Regions from separate parts of the Homo sapiens genome. Here region 2 is linked to region 1. Evidence: fine-mapped QTL for protein levels in blood plasma. A gene starts in region 1. The other region holds a variant in brackets. All regions are shown on one strand. Distances are between the middles of the regions.

The links. A credible set is the group of variants that fine-mapping cannot tell apart. PIP is the posterior inclusion probability: the model's chance that the variant is causal. Protein levels are from antibody-based Olink assays in UK Biobank. Linkage for the fine-mapping came from a reference panel and not from the study's own genotypes, which makes the PIPs less certain.
Region 2: its variant is the best candidate, but not a certain one, in a credible set for the plasma level of the CCL7 protein (UK Biobank, PIP 0.51).

What each region holds. Positions count from the first base shown.
Region 1 is chr17:34,268,909-34,271,408 of GRCh38, reverse strand. CCL7 (C-C motif chemokine ligand 7) reads right to left here and starts at 1,188. Exons shown (of 3, transcript NM_006273.4): 1 at 1,043-1,188; 2 at 146-263. The coding sequence starts at 1,118.
Region 2 is chr17:34,214,688-34,217,721 of GRCh38, reverse strand. No RefSeq gene overlaps it. Among named protein-coding and RNA genes, the nearest start is that of LINC01989, 33 kb to the right of the region's middle. The variant TA/A (reference allele first, on the strand shown) is at 1,844.

The DNA of each region.
Region 1 (2,500 bases):
CACTGGCAAATGTCTGGGATAAGGTTAGAGATGCTGTATGCATCACAGTATTTGACTCCAACTCATTCTGATACTAGTCCTATTCCCTGCCCAGGGAAGAACCTAGGACTGAGGTGTGAGGGGTGGGTGGTCATCGTCCACATACATTACAGCTTCCCGGGGACAGTGGCTACTGGTGGTCCTTCTGTAGCTCTCCAGCCTCTGCTTAGGGATTTTCTTATTGATAAATCTGTAGCAGCAGGTAGTTGAAGTATTAATCCCAACTGCAATGAAACAACAAGAAGAAAAGTCCATTGAGGGTGTGTCCTGGGTCTTTCTGTTTGTAAAACAGGGAATGGTAAGAAGAAGGAATCAGAAAGAAAGGAAGAGGTGGAGGGAAAAGCTGCCCATCCCAAACCCAATGTCTCTGCCCTTTGAGGCATTTCATAAACTCCCTTTCACTTTTATGGACTGTGAAATAGGGATGCACCATCACCAGTTGAAAGACGGAAGAGGAATTGATGGCTACTCTGGGCATTGCTAGGAGGGGCTAATATAATAATCCAATTCCTTAGAGCAAGGGTACCCCAACTATGGATCCCCTTTTAGGCTCTGAGCATTCAATGCTTGGTCATGAGTTTCCCTGATACGTACCACCTCTGCAGAGCTGCTGTTTCTGGAAGCTGGGCTTCCACAGACCAGATTCTGGGTCTCCCGGTATCTGGAAACAGCCCGCACACCCATCCCCAGAAGCCTCCTGTCTTTGATCACCCTGATCCCAAATTCTGCTGGAAGCAGCTGGAGTGGTAACTGCACTGAGGGTGTTCCCAGAGCTGGAATCCTAGAAGGAGCTGGATTTGGGGTTCACAGCTGGAATTCTAGTTCAGGCTCTACCCAACAGCAGCTGTGTGGTTGGGCTCACCCCTTATCCTTTTTCTAAGTTACCTTATCTTGGAAAAGTAGCTGTTAAAGTGAGACTGTGGGTATCAGGTCTTCTTGATTGGTCCAGGATAACCCAGAGAGGGGGCAATGTGCTTCAAGGAGAAGGAGAGAGGGACCTTACCTGGCTGAGCAAGCCCCTGGGGGCTGAAAGCAGCTGCTGTGAGCAGCAGACACAGAAGTGCTGCAGAGGCTTTCATGTTGGAGGGTGAGGGCATGGGCTTCCACATGAGAATTGGAGGTTTCTGGTTTGGTCTCAGCCCCTCTGCTCCTCTGGAAGCTCTGTCTCTGCCTTTTATAGGAAGCAGAGAGGATGAATCATAGAATGGAGTAATAAATCTATGGAGTAATAAATCTGCTGAGCCAGTGCACTTCAGTGGGAGGATAGGAAATGACAGTATGAGTCGAGGCTAGCCTGTTTTTCAGCTAAGACCAGGAGTGGTAGGTGAGGTAGGGTCTATGTAGAGGAAGACCACAGTATGTAATCTATGGCTATTATCAAGAGACCAGTTTCTCTGAAATGAGACACATTCTATAGAAAAAGGAAGGAATCAGGGATACCAAAGTCAAAGATATGTAAGGGATATTCCCCTTTTCCCTTTGGAGTGGTATCCCTAGGACACGAGTCCACAAAGAGACATTCAAACTTTGGTTCAACTCTACAAAGGACTCAAAGATTCTTCACTGTCTTAAATCCTGGTGGCTTTCTAAAACCCAGAGAAAAGTAAAATAATAGAACATTAGCAGAAAAATAAAATTCAATATTCTTAGAATAATAGTACCTAAAATTGTAGTGTCTATTTCAATAATCTATTGCTGCATAGCAATCTATCTGAAAACAGTGACTTAAAACAATAACAATCTTCTGGGTTTTTTTGCTCTTGACTATATCACAAGGCCTTCATTCAGTGTCTGGGGTCTGGGCTGGGAGGACTTCAACAGCCAGCAGTTGGACCAGATGGAATTTCTCAGGTGTCTCTCTCTCTCTCTGTATGTGTGTGTGTGTGTGTGTGTGTGTGTGTGTGTGTGTGATCTTTCCAGTGGTCCCTCCACATGGCTAGATATTTTGCATGATGGCTTAAGGATCCCAGGTGCAAGGTTAGGGAACATAGTCATACCTCTTAATGGGAAGAGTGTAAAATAATTTGAGGATATGTTTTAAAACCACTATTTGTTTTATAGGCTATCGGAACTGCACAGCATATCAAGATCTTAAAATACTGTGTTTCTAAAACATCTAATGAGCTGTGAAAATATTTTTCCAAGTAAAAGAATATAGGGAAGGCAAATTTATCGACAAAATCAGAGACCTTCAGTTTGAATCAGAGACAAGAGACTTCTTGTCATTCTTCCCACACACATATCTCAGAAATACAAAGAATAAATTTTGGAAACCACTAATCTAGCTCCTCATCTCACATACAACTAGCTCCTCATCTCACATACACATTACAAAATCACCAACTAATCGCCTTCCATATCAGTGAAAAGGGGTTTGATGAGAGACCATGGGTGGGGTCCTCATGCCTATAACTGGGCCATGGATCATGGACATGGAATGCAAAAAAGGAAAATTATTCAA
Region 2 (3,034 bases), 54 kb after region 1:
TATCCAGAATCTACAGAGAACTTAAACAAATTTACAAGAAAAATACGAACAACCCCATCAAAATGTGGGCAAAGGATATGAACAGACACTTCACAAAGAAGACATTTATGTGGCCAACAAACTTAAGCAAAAAGCTCATCATCTCTGCTCATTAGAGAAATGCAAATCAAAACCACAATGAGATACCATCTCACACCAGTTAGAAAGGCAATCATTAAAAAGCCAGGAAACAACAGATGCTGGAGAGGATGCGGAGAAATAGAAACGCTTTTACACTGTTGCTGGAAGTGTAAATTAGTTCAACCATTGTAGAAGATAGTGTGGTGATTCCTCAAGGATCTAGAACCAGAAATACCATTTGACCCAGCAATCCTATTGGGTATACACCCAAAGGATTATTAATCATTCTACTATAAAGACACATGCGCACATATGTTTATTGCAGCACTGTTCACAATAGCAAAGACTTGGAACCAACCCAAATGCCCATCAATGATAGATTGGATAAAGAAAATGTGGCACATATACACCATAGAATACTGTGCAGCCATAAAAAAAGATGAGTTCATGTCCTTTGCTGCGAAATGGATGAATCTGGAAACCATCATTCTCAGCAAACTAACACAAGAACAGAAAACCAAACACTGCATGTTCTCACTCCTAAGTGGGAGTTGAACAATGAGAACATATGTACACAGGGAGGGGAACATCACACACTGAGGCCTGCCAGGAGGTGGGGGGCTAGGAAAGGGATAGCATTAGGAGAAATACCTAATGTAGATGGCAGGTTGATGGGTGCAACAAACCCCCATGGCACATGTATACCTATGTAACAAACCTGCACGTTCTGCACATATATCCCAGATCTTAAAGTATAATTTTTAAAAAAAGTCCAGTTTCTAACCAAAATTATGGGACATGAAAAGAAACAAAAATTAGGGCATCTACACAGGAAAATAAAATAAAACACAACAAAAGAAGTCAATGTAAACTGTCCCTGAAGAAATCCAGATGTTGGATTTACCAGCTCTCAAATTTAAAAAATCTAACCTTCCATATTAAAAACTAGAAAAAGAAGAGCAAACTAAACCCAATGCTCACAGAAGGAAGGAGATAATAATGATAAAAGCAAAAGTAAAGAAAATAGAGAATATAAACACCGTAGAGAAAATAGACAAAACATAAGTTGGTTCTCTTAAAAGATCAACAAGGTTGACAAACATTTACTAGAATAATCAAGAAAAAAAAGAAACATCCTCCAAATTACTAAAATAAGGAATAGAAGAAATGACATTACTACTGACCTTACAGAAAGGGAAAGGATTATAAGGAAATACTACGAACAATAGTATGAACAGCTAACAGATAACATCATACATAATAACAGAAGAGTAAAATCTTTCCCCATAAGATCAGAAACAAGATAAGGATGTCTGTTCTCAACACTTCTACTCAGCATTGTGCTGGGGACTCCATTCAGGTCACTTTGGCAAAGAAAATAAATATAAGCCATCCAGATTGGAAAGGAAGAAGTAAAACCATGTTTGCAGATGACATGATCCTGTATATAGAAAACCCTACAGAACCCACAAAAAAATCTCTATTAGAGCTAATAAGTGAGTTGGGCATGGTGGCTCACACCTGTAATCCCAGCACTTTGGGAGGCTGAGGCAAAAGGATCACCTGAGCTCAGGAGTTTGAGACCAGCCTGGGAAACATAGTGAGACTCATCTCTATTTTTAAAAAATAAAATAAAACTCTAAAAAAAAACAATAAAAAATAGAGTTAATAAATGAGTTCAGCAAGGTTGCAGGATTTACAAGCTCAATATACAAAAATCAAG[TA/A]TGGAAAAAACAGTCCAAGGTGGCCAAATAGGAACAGCTCCATTCTACAGCTCCCAGCGTGAGTGATGCAGAAGACAGGTGACTTCTGCATTTCCAAATGAGGTACCAGGTTCATCTCACTGGGGCTTGTTAGACAGTGGGTGCAGCCCACGGAGCAGAGTGGGGCATTGCCTCACCCTGGAAGGGCAAGGGGTCAGGGAACTCCCTTTCCTAGCCAAGGGAAGCTGTGACAGACGGTACCTGGAAAATCAGGACACTCTCACACTAATACTGCACTTTTCCAATGGTGTTAGCAAATGGCACACCAGGAGATTATATCCCATGCCTGGCTCAGAGGGTCCTATGCCCATGGAGCCTCACTCACTGCTAGCACAGCAGTCTGAGATCGAACTGCAAGGTGGCAGTGAGGCTGGGGGAGGGGTGTCTGCCATTGCTGAGGTTTGAGTAGGTAAACAAAGCAGCCAGGAAGCTCGAACTGAGTGGAGCCCACTGCAGCTTGAGAAGGCCTGCCTGCCTCTGTAGACTCCACCTGTGGGGGCAGGGCATAGCTGAACAAAAGGCAGCAGAAACTTCTGAAGACTTAAACATCCCTGTCTGACAGCTTTGAAGAGAGTAGTGCTTCTCCCAGCACAGAGTTTGAGATCTCAGAATGGACAGACTGCCTCCTCAAGTGGGTCTCTGACCCCCAAGTAGCCTAACTGAGAGACACCTCCCAATAGGGGCCGACTGACACCTCATACAGCTGGGTGCCCCTCTGAGATGAAGCATCCAGAGGAATGTTCAGGCAGCAACATTTGCCATTCTGCAATATTTGCTGTTCTGCAGCTTCCGCTGATGATACCCAGGCAAACAGGTTCTGGAGTGGACCTCCAGCAAACTCCAACAGATCTGCAGCTGAGGATCCTGACTGTTAGAAGGAAAACTAACAAACAGAAAGGACATCCACACCAAAACCCCATCTGTACGTCACCATCATCAAAGACCAAATGTAGATAAAACCACAAAGATGGGGAGAAACCGGAGCAGAAAAGCTGAAAATTCTAAAAATCAGAGTGCCTCTTCTCCTCCAAAGGAACACAGCTCCTCACCAGCAATGGACAAAAATTGGATGGAGAATGACTTTGACAAGCTGAGAGAAGAAGGCTTCAGATGATCGGTAATAACAAACTTCTCTGAGCTAAAGGAGAGTG